Homo sapiens: one gene and its partner. The protein of the gene in region 2 purifies or fractionates together with the protein of the main gene of each other region. This does not show direct contact. Each region holds a gene or a part of one and is shown on either strand. Other genes may lie near its edges.

Region 1 (7,630 bases), on a different chromosome or scaffold from region 2:
GAGAATTTGAAAGCTGGGTACAGAAGTCTGTATGCTTTACTGAAGCACCAGTTTAATCTGACACTCACTGTGGCCTTGAATGAGTCACCTTTCAGGGCTGAGTTCTCTAATCTGTAAAATGAGAGTGTTATGTTAAATGTTTACTGAGGTTGATTATTCTATCAGCTACTTGTAATTCAGCTGCATCATTTCAGTTAGCTATAAATAAACCCCCTAAGACCCTCAGTGTGAATATGAACAACTATCATTTCATATTATTTCATATATCAAGTATTCTCATTTATAATTGGGTTGAGGTTTATTAAAAAAAAAAAAAAAAGCTTTTTGGCAAAGGGAGGGACTGAAAACAAATTCACCACTGCATGGTGCCCTGCTTGAGCCAATCTGACTGGAGCTTAAGAAACTCCACCCAGTTCTGGCTAACATCAAAGGAGACTCAACACCACTCTGCCAGAAAATAAGCCCTGTATTATCTAACCAGGCACTAAGGGAACACACAGTTTTCAAGCACAGCACTTTGTATATCTGATCTTTCATTCTGATGACATGCCTGAAGTGAAACTATTAGTGAGCCGGGTTTTTTAAAATAGGTAAACTAAGGCAAGAGGCAACTACATGGCATGATGATAAAATACTCTCTTGACTACAATCTCACTATTAAGAGCTAGGTGCTCATAAACAGGAAATAAGGATATATGATGAGGCCACAGTACTTTGTTGTATGCTTTACTTTGGATAGTTCACAAACTCTGGAATTAATTACTGTACTAAAAATATTTTACAGGTCTATACAGATTAAACAGTGTTAATATCTAACTTAATTACACAGAAGTTCTGAAGAACCTTTTAAGCTCCATGAAGTCCTCCTGAAAATTTTAGGTCATTCGCATCTAGAGCCACTCACTCGGGGTCTGTGCTCATTCTGTCTGATGAGAAATTGGCAATCTGGTTTACCAATGGCCTGTTGCTGTCTCTGTCCTCTTCTATTCACCCCTTGAAAGGTGCTACTATGGGAGCTAAAATGCAGGGAAAAAACTCATGAAAAGCTAGAACAGAGCTTGGGCAAAATGGCAAAACCCCATCTCTACAAAAACATGTAAAAATTAGCCAGGCATGGTGGCACATGCCTGTAGTCCCTGCTACTCAGGAGGCTGAGGTGGGAGGACTGATTGAGCCCAGGAGGTTGAGGCTGCAGTGAGCCACTATTGCACCACTGCACTCCGGCGTGGGCAACAGAGTGAAACCCTGACTCAAAAAAAAAAAGCAAGAACAGAAGCCTGATTCCCACCATCATACTCACTTTTCCTAACCACTGTGTTAGGAAACCTTCATTTTACTGTGTCACATTAGCCAAATTTCTACCGACATTCATTTGCAGTAGCCAGCATTCTCTTTTTAAAAGTATAGAATCCTATTTCTTAATTTAAAAGTGGGTAAGAAAATGTACATCCCTGGAAAGACCATTGTTCATCCCAGAGATGGTTCTATTGAAGATGTCTGAGTTCTTGGTTCTGGTGTGAAAAAGGAAGAAAAATATTATGGCAACATGGGAACTTTCAGGGAATAAAGCAGATATAGATATGGTATCAAAGTAGGGAAAGGGTATACAGGCCCAGGAGCCCTAGGAGGCAAAAGAAAGGGAGTTAATACCATGCCAAAGACAAGCTTGCTATCTTTCAAAATATCGCCTCCTGTCAGTTTCAGCAGAAAGAAATAAACTTTCTTCTCAGTGACCTAGGCTACTTTGAGGCAAATCATTTTGAGTTCCAAACAACCCATTTAATAAACTTTAAATAATTATTACTAAAGGTAGGATACTGCTTATAATGCTCACTTATATTTTCTCTATAACTGATAGCCTGTCCTTTTTGGGTGGGTGGGGGCGGGGGCGGTTATGGACAAGACAAGGAACCATAAAGATATCTGGGTTAATGTTTTCTTTTATACGTTTGTTTTTGCATGACATTTAAATGACAGAGAATTCTAAAGCCAACACTAAGCTGCTATCCTAGGACATTAGTGAGAATGCTGTGGCCAAAATATAGTGCTCATTCCTCAGGCTTGAAAGGAACCCCACGTCGCCAGTGTGGGAGATCATTTATAATCTTGATGGATACAGGTATAGCCTGCTTCATAATAATTTAATATTCAACATCAGATTTTTTTTTAGTATGCCTAGCAGGTTTTTAGTTACTAATTAACTTTATTACCCAGATTTGTTTCTTACTGAACTTCTTTCAGAGGCCTGTTATACATCAAGCTGAACTTTGTCTGGCAGCTGTGCTGTTTTTAATTTATTTAACCACAAAACCTTGATTTATACTTTCAAGCAAAATGATATTTTACTTAAAAATAAATCTTTAGCAAGGATGTCTACAGGAATCAACTACCAACTTACACAGTTCACAGACACATATGATTCCTCAGACAAATCTGAATTTCTCCTGCTTCTCCTCCAAACCAGACTTGCAGATAGCAACAGACAACTGAGGAAGATCTTGACTATCCTGAGCAATAAACTACAACCCCCCTGAAGAATATATTAACTGTCCACCCCTAGGTTCCTCCCTACACAGTTCAAGGACAACAGCTGTGCTATTACAAACTGATGGAATTTCCAGGCTTGACAGGGTTCTGTTCGTAACCACCATTTGTCCTGTTCATCATAGGATTAGCAACAGCAGAGAGCCCTTGATTACTAGAATAGCTGAGGCCATCACACAGCTACATTCCTACATGAAAGAACACACTGATATAGGTTTAAAGAAGTTATATTTTACTTTCATGTAGTTACCAGAGTCCCCCCCACCCCCCATTTAAGGGAGCCCTGTTCTCTGGATATAAAAATACTGTATACACTTGCACACACATACTCACATACATAAAACCTTGCATCACAAAGTTAAAAGGCTACCTTGCTTACTTACAGGAACTATCCAGGCAGCTTGTGTTCAGTCCTGACTAAATGCATTTTGGATCAGGCACCTGCCTTCAACATTTCTGTCCAAATGAATTTCAATCTATTTCTCCAGGAAGAACACACCAGATACCTCCCACTGTTAGCCATGTGATACAGGCAGCATGATGTCTGAAGTCTGGTTACGGTTATGTAGGCCAAAATAAGAAATGACAATGACACAGCACTTACATTTCTGATATCACCAACCTTAAGAATGAATCTTCCATTTTATCTAAATTTTTTAAATGAGTAAAACTTTAAAAGATTCTTAATACCTAACCCCTCAAAATTTTGAAAAAGGAGCATTTTTTTTAAACTTTACATTTATCCCACTTCCTTCCTCTAACACAGGAAAACATTCAGAGTTAATCTATACCAATCCAAAAATTATTTCTAACCACATTCTAAAGGCATTTTTTTTTTTTTTGAGACAGGGTCTTGGCCTGTTGCCCAGGCTGGAGAATGCAGTGGCATGATCTCAGCTCACTACAACCTCCGCCTCCTGGGTTCAAGTGATTCTCCTAACTCAGCCTCCTGAGTAGCTGCGATTGCAGGCATGCACACCACCATGCCTGGCTAATTTTTGTATCTTCAGTAGAGACGAGGTTTCATCATGTTGGCCAGACTGGTCTCAAACTCCTGGCCTCAAGTGATCCACCCATCTTGGCCTCCCAAAGTGCTGGGATTACAGGCATGAGCCACCATGCCTGGCTCTAAAGGCTTACACCAGTTGAACTGATCTAGGATCCAATCCCCTCACTTTAATAGATGGAAAAAAAAATGAGAAATGGAAAAAACAAGTCACTTACAAATGAGGCTGAGACAAAGGATCGGCGAAAAGAGCCACAGAACACCAAAAACAGAAGCAGAGCGTGACAAAATAAGCAAAACCTTACAGTTTTGTAGTTTCTGCTTTTATCTAACACAATGACTTCGCTGTACTTCATATACCTTTTGAATTATACCTGCTTATACATACCTTTACCTACCTACTACTTATACCTACCTATCTTTTCTTCTGCAAGGAGGGAGGCAGGCAGGAAGAATCCTGAACATCAGGAAAACATTCCACCTGATCTTTAAAGGGACCCCAATGCCTAGATGTCTTTTTCTTTTTTCTTTTTTTTTTTTTTTGTAAATCCAAACTCTTACGTGTAATATCAAGGCTGACTGACAAGACTCAGTCCTATCACCCACCATAATCATCAGCAGCTTTCCATGTAGGGTCTCCCTACAATTTAGTCACATGGGACCATCTACCATCTTACATTATCACTGTACACCCTATGCTCATTTGCTCTCCAAACTTGAAGTTATCTTCTCTCCCTCCTCATTTGTGAAAGTCTTGAAATCAAGGTCCACATAAATTGTCTTACCACCTTTTCTGTGACTGCTTTTTAGAATCTTTCTCCCAGTAGTATTCAGAACTAATACATCATCTGTACTTGTAACAGTAGAGTCTGATCTATACTGTAGTTCAGTGGTCCCCAAACCTTTTGGCACCAGGGACAGGTTTCGTGGAAAACAATTTTTCCACAGATAGCAGGAGGGGTGAGAGGGAGGAGATGGTTTCGGGATGAAACTCTTCCACCTCCGATCATCAGTCATTAGATTCTCACAGGAGCATGCAACCTAGATCCATCGCATGTGCAGTTCACAATAGGGTTTGCGCTCCTATGATAATCTAAAACCACTGCTGATCTGACAGAAGGCAGAACTCAGGCACACTTATCGCAAAGTTAATGTAATGCTGTTCACCTGCTGCTCACCTCCTGCCGTGCAGCCCAGTTCCTAACTGGCCATGGACTGGTACCAATCTACAGACCGAGGGTTGGGGACCCCCCACTGTAGTTAGTTGTATATACCAGCTCCTGTAAACTGCTGGGTCCCAGAAGAGAGGACCACATCAAAGTGATGTGCACACCTTCTCTGTTCCTAGTAGACTACAGAGGAGACAGGCCAAAATGATAAAAACCAACAAAACAAGGGGCTAAAAACACATTTCTAAAATGACACGATGAAAGTTATTAGAAATTGAATCTAATTTGAAATTAATCAGAAGTTCCAAAATTACAAAAACTCTTCACAACTAGAAAAAGAATAAACAGATTCAAGGCTGAAAGGTTATCACCAATTACAAATATTCACCTTGGCTAGGTGTGGTGGCTCATGCTTGTAATCCCAGCACTCAGCACTTTGGGAGGCTGAGGTGGGTGGATTATGAGGTCAAGAGATTGAGACCATCCTGGCCAACAAGGTGAAACCCCTCTCTACTAAAAATACAAAAATTAGCCGGGCGTGGTGGTGTGCACCTGTAGTCCCAGCTACTCGAGAGGCTGAGGCAGGAGAATCACTTGAACCTGGGAGGTGGAGGTTGCAGTGAGCCAAGATCGTGTCACTGCACTCCAGCCTGGGTGACAGAGTGAGACTCTGTCTCAAAAAAATAAAAATAAAAAAGAATATTCACCTATTTTCTTCCACTTTCTAAACACAGTTTGTACAAGAGCAAGCATGTTGTCTGGAATTATAGAAAGAAAGCCAGTAAGGAGTAACCGTACGAACCAGCTCTCCATGCTGGTCATCTTATCATTATTAGGCATAGCAATAAAAATAGCTCTCTCTGCTTTTAGAAAAGCATGACATGATGCAATGTGGCAAAAACAAATATTCAAGATGGTCGACCAGTTACTGGCCTGGCATGGTGACTCACACCTGTAATCCCAGAACTCTGGGAGGCCAAAGCAGGAAGACCACTTGAGCCCAGGAATTCAAGACTAGCCTGGGCAAGATGGCAAGACACCATCTCTACAAAAAAAAATGTTTTTAATTAGCTGGGCATGGTGGTGTGTGCCTGTAGTGCCAGCCTCTCAGGAGGCTGAGGCAGTAGGATTCCTTGAGCCCAGGAGCTTGAGGATGCAGTGAGCTATGATTACAACACTGTACTCCAGTCTGGGCGAGAAAGTGAGACCACATCTCTGAGGGACAGAGAGAGAAAGAGAGAAAGATATCAGCCACTACCATCATGTTAATATGATCATATAAATATTAAAACTTTATAATTATTAAAATATTAAATCTCTATAGTTATCAGCTCATATATCTGTCAGAAAGTAATAAGCATATCATGTAACTTTAGGATGACTTAGTGCTGAGGAGATTGGAAGAAAGGAAGAATATTCATACTTGATCAGCTCTTAGCTTTTGAGAACTATTTTATTAAAGAAAAAACTCTCTTTTGGCTGGGCATGGTGGTTCATGCCTATAATCCCAACATTCTGGAAGGCTGAGGCAGGAAAACTGCTTGAGCCCAAGAGTACAAGACCAGCCTGGGCAACACAGTTGAGACTGCGTCTCCACAGAAAACATTTTAAAATTAGCCTGCACACCTGTGGTCCCAGCTCTTGGGAGGCTGAGGTGGACGGATCACTTCAGCAGAGGAAGTTCAAGGCTGCAGTGAGCCGTGATAGCACCACTGCACTCCAGCCTGGGCTACAGAGTGAGGCCCTGTCTTGAAAATAATAGATAACAAAAGAAAAACTTCTCCCATTAAGCAAAGTGAAGTTTCACTCTATTTTATATCAGTGAAAATAAAGAAAAGTGGAAGGTAGAAGAGGACATAGGAATTTGTGCTGCCAATTCTATAATTTTTGTTTTGTTTTGTTTTTTGTGGGGTTTTTGAGACGGAGATTTTTGTATTTTTAGTAGAGACAGGGTTTCACCATGTTAGTCAGGCTGGTCTTGAACTCCTGACCTCAAGTGATTCGCCTGCCTCAGCCTCCCAAAGTGTTGGGATTACAGGTGTGAGCCACCATGCCCACCCTTGTAATTGTTTATTTACAATGTGTGTCCCACCCAGAGTTCCCCTTAACGCTTGAGTTCCTCGATGGCTAGGATAGCATCTTTCTCACCTTTTATCCTGGACATCTAAATATAATAAACTTGAAACCTCACAGGCTCTCATTAAATGCACATTTGTCCTGCTAGGTGCGCTCTGCTCCATACCATACCAGCCTTCTCTTGCTGGGGTTGATGTTTGCACAGCTGGAAGCACCCTCATAGTTCTTCTAAGTATTGGTTCTAGGCACGACTAAGGGTAGAGTAGCTCAGCTTTTCTGAGCAAGAAGGAGAAGATACAAACTCTATGGGAGTACTTAACAAGCATTTTGTAGTCGTGGCAAAGGCCTTACTTTGACCTAATATCTTACAGATGCTTTCAAAAAGGAGGGGGGGAATATCATTATTAAATGAAAATTGAACAGCAAAAGTTGAAGAGATCTTTCAAGTTATTAGTAACATAACTTTTAATATTTTACCTGAAATACAAGTAAAAATCTGAATTAAAAGTATTAAAAAAACAAAAAAAACACGCTGGATCAGAATTGTTCAGGGACAGGGTTAAGCAATATGAGTATTATTTGTTGTTGTTGTTTTGTTTTTTTTAGAGACAAGTCACACTATGTTGCCCAGGCTGGAGTGCATTGGCTAGTCACAGGTGTGCTCATTGTACACTACAGCTTCAAGCTCCTGGGCTCAAGCGATCCTCCAGCCTCAACCTCCCAGGTAGCTGAGACTAGAAGCATGTGCTACTGCACCAAAAATCTCAGTGTTGTTGGTTTTCTTGCAGTAAGGGTAATCATGACACAGAGAAATCTCATTAAAGTTGAGTCCGAG
Region 2 (4,022 bases):
TTTTCTCTGTATTGGTTTCTGTGGCTGCTGCAACAAATTTCCACAAATGGGATGGCTCAAGTCATCTCACAGCTCTGGAGGCCAGACACTGAAATTAGGGTGTCAGAAAGGCCACAGTCTCTCTGAAGGCTCTGTGGGAGAATTCCTTATATACTTCTTCTAGCTTATGGTGGCGCCAGGCATCCCTTGACTTGTGGCCACATCACTTCAGTCTCTGACTCCGTGGTCACATTGCCTCCTTCTCTTCTGTTTCCTCTTTTTCCAAATAAAGTGAACATTCACAGCTCCTGGGAATTTAGAACCTGGGCATATCTTTGGAAGGCCATTATTAACCGATTACATTCTCTTCACTTTTTCTCTTGTGGTGAAGGAACTTACTCAAATTAACCCTTTTGCTATGGGTTTCTTATTTGAAGTTCCAGTTTCTTCAGCAGAGATTTGTTGGACTTCCCGGTTTGTATATACCGGAGGCTTTTCTTTCCCTGCTTTCCTAGCTCTTTAGTGCCAAAAGCATTAAGCCACCAGACCCCATGGGAGTCATTATTTTTGGCCTCTGTGTAATTCTCCCGTTTTCTTCCTGTGCAGCTTTTTTTTTTAAATTTAGTTGCATATCGTACTTTTAAATTTTCTGTCATGATGTTAAATACTAAAGCTCTATTTCTTCTTGGGTTCCTCCTTCCCTCCCTGGGTTTATTTTCAGTGACTCTCCTTTGTCGTTTTCCCTCTCATCTCATCATTGGGCCTCATCATCCATCTAAGTCACCAGTCTGCAGTCTGTACTCTTCACCAGAGCTATCTTCATGAACATTCCTGCCTTGATTTTGTTCCCTTGCTTAGAGCCCCCAAAGCTCCTTATTCTCTTATGCCTCAGAATCTTCCCTTCCACACAAGATCCTTCCTGCTCTGGGCCTTCCCTGTCTTGCTAATTCTGTCCATGAGTCTTTCACTCTATCAAAGGCTTTTTTCACTCTCCCTCGAACACACTTGGCTCTTTCATTGTGGTATGGTAGTAAAGATCATCTAATAATGTAGCTTTCTATTTTGATAAGCTTATATAAAACTTTAGAGATAATTCTTAACTCTTCTTGTCCCTCAAATCCTTTGGTCACCAAGTACTGTTGTGCAGTGGAGCTGAAGATGACATTTATCTCTCACTTGTTCTTGCAAGCAAATGCAGTGGCATGATTGAACCTGGTCAGGGGTAGAACCATGTCTGTATGAATTATGTATTTATAATACTACCTGCAATTCACAGAACCATTCTTAACCTGTGCTGCCTTTCTGTATTCTCTTTACTCTGTGACGTTAGTTAGGCAAAAGTTTAGTGGGTGAGAACTTTTAAATGTTTAGTGATTTATCTAAGATTACCACAAAGTTGGAACTTTTTCTAATTCAGTATCTTTCCAATCTAGTATCTATAGCTTCGTTTTCATTATGCCTTTTCTCTCAGAATTGTCTTTCATAAAGTATCAATAACTTGGTAAATTAGAAGAGCCACAAAATGTTGACCATTTTAGAAACCCTTAGATGTCTTCTTGCTTGCTCCACTAAACTCTAAACATCATCTCCAGGTCCTGTAATTATCTATTAAGGAAGTAGCTTTGAGAGTATTCTCACATCTAGGATTGCTGCTAGGTAGGACAAGAGCTATTTTTAAAGGAAGCTCATCTGTTTGCTTTAAATTCAGATCTGACTAGAAGCAAAATGCTCCACAGTAGGCAGATAACTTTAAATTTTCTTTTTTTTTGTTTTTGAGTTGTATATTCAGTATATTTCAATCAATTGCATTTGGGTTATATTTTTGGATGCTCAGAGTTTTCGTCATTGGCCATATTGGATCCTGTATTCTTTAACATGATCCTTTGTCTTTGGTAAATTCTTGCTTTCTCACGTAGCAACATGTCCTAGGCTTATTATGTACTTTTACTTCTCCAGACGTAGAAAATAGCTGTTCTTCAAATTATAGAGAATCATATTTTGAAACCACATATCTGGGATACTGAGTTGGCACAGCCTCTAGGCTTTTTTTGTAGACATAGGAAGTATCTGTGTATGAGGAAAAATAACCATCTTGGCAGTACCCAGAGTTAGCCAAACTGTGAAGTGATGGCATAGTCCTCCAGAAGGCTCCAGGAGTCTGCCCGATATCTAACTCCACCTGCAAGGAGTGAGGATTCTACTCAGGGAAAGATCCACACAAGACCCCCATCACTGCTGGCACCAACTGCAAGTTCCAGGGATTTTCCTAAACCACCCTCAGGTTCAGTAACCTGCTAGGAGGACTCAGACTCACTAAAAGGTATTACACTCATGGTTTGAATTAGGGTAGGGAAAGGATACACGTTAGAACCAGCGAGAGTGAGAGAGAGAGAGAGACCCTGGAGTCATGGATAATGTTTCTTCCTCTCATCCCTTACATCTGACAACACAGAGACTATATTACCAACCAGGGAAGCTCACTCGAGCCTTGGTGTCCAGTTTCTGTTGAGGTTTCATTCTGTAGGCATGATTGCTGTCTTTCTCAACTGATATACCATGTGACCCAAAGTCCCCATCCTAAATCATATACTTGGTCTTTCTGTCCTGGCCAGCACTACCCTGAATTGTCTCATTAGCAACAACTGTCAGGTTTGGTGAACATACCCACCATGAGAAACAAAGATTCCTACCAGGAAATTCCAAGGATTTAGAGGTTCACCTCAGGAGCTGGGACAAAAGGCAGAACTCTTAGGATAAGGCCAAATTCCTTACTACACAAGCAGTTAACATTTTTTTAAATATTCACCCCCAATAGGTAAAATACTGATTTTTTTTCAACTTTTTCTTTCCATTCTAGAAATTACAGAAGACATCCCCGTGAAGACTTTGAATATGAAGACTGTGTATGTTTCTGTGTTACCAACAACAGCAGACTTCTAGCATGTACTTATCAATGTTGTTCGGTCAGCCCTTCCCTAATTACACCTATCCCCTACACATACATGCACATAGACACACACATGAACACACTGAAGATATTTCCTTCAGGTGTGTGTAAAATATGCTGCTTGGATTGAAATTCAAATGGGATTGATTAGTCAAGTAACTTGAGACCTCACAGTAATCTTCACACTTAACCTTAGACACCTATGCAGTCATGTTGGGAGCAGGTTACAATGTTACTTCAGCCCACAGTTTATTTCTATACTTGAGTTCTTAAGTACAGAAGATAGAAGTGATTTAAATGGCATAGTATATATATCATTTTCTGGCCTTTTAAAATTTATTTGAGACCTCTTGATGAAATGGACATATTATATATTTCTGCCACCTGGATTTTCCTGGATAATTTGATGGAATATTTTAAGTTTCAGTAAATCAGAACAATAAACAAACTCAGATATAAATGTGTTGAAAGTAATTCATTCTCCCATAGATAAATGAAACTTGAAATGTGTAAACTTTGAAGAACATAAAAACTTCATGGTGGTTTCTTATTAAGACAGTGGACTAGACATCTAATAAAACTTCTTTCCAAAATCCCAGGTGATAATTTGAGTCCTCAGAGAAGCAGATGACATGACAAAGTTAGATGTGCAAGAATTTATTAGAGGAAACATAAATGGAGGATAAACGGGAGATGGAGCAAGCGTAGGTCGAGAGAGCCTTCAGACTGCAGTGTGGGTCTGACACCTGTAAAAAGAGAAAATGAAGATTGATTAGCAAAAACTTAGACTGCAGTGCAACTCTAAGATGAAGTCTTGGTCAGGCCAATGGAGAGTTCCCAAGCAAGGATTCCTTTTAGTAGAGTTCAGAATTGGGCAGAAATAGCCTGGCTTTGTTTCTCTGACTTCCTCAAGTCAGTTTCTGGGAGGAGACCAAGGGGAGCGTGGCCTTCGCACAAATGCCTTGATGGATCTGAAAGTACCAACTACACTCCTCATGTCAGATTCTTTTGAAGGGAGATCTGAATGATACATCCCTATGGCTACTACAACAGATGCATTCACACAAAAACCCACAAGTTGGAGAAAATAGAGGAA

The links. The genes of interacting proteins can lie anywhere in the genome.
Region 1: the proteins of IARS1 (region 2) and MAP4 fractionate together in Homo sapiens (co-fractionation; 2 studies listed by BioGRID). This does not show direct contact.

What each region holds. Positions count from the first base shown.
Region 1 is NC_000003.12:48,013,407-48,021,036, forward strand, and holds the start of MAP4 (microtubule-associated protein 4), read right to left. Parts: upstream 3,011-7,630; 5' UTR 2,928-3,010; exon of another isoform or gene 2,915-2,927; intron 112-2,914; exon of another isoform or gene 69-111; intron 1-68. UniProt on the Homo sapiens protein: Non-neuronal microtubule-associated protein. Promotes microtubule assembly.
Region 2 is NC_000009.12:92,209,704-92,213,725, reverse strand, and holds the end of IARS1 (isoleucine--tRNA ligase, cytoplasmic), read left to right. Parts: intron 1-2,836; coding exon 2,837-2,919; 3' UTR 2,920-3,519; downstream 3,520-4,022. UniProt on the Homo sapiens protein: Catalyzes the specific attachment of an amino acid to its cognate tRNA in a 2 step reaction: the amino acid (AA) is first activated by ATP to form AA-AMP and then transferred to the acceptor end of the tRNA.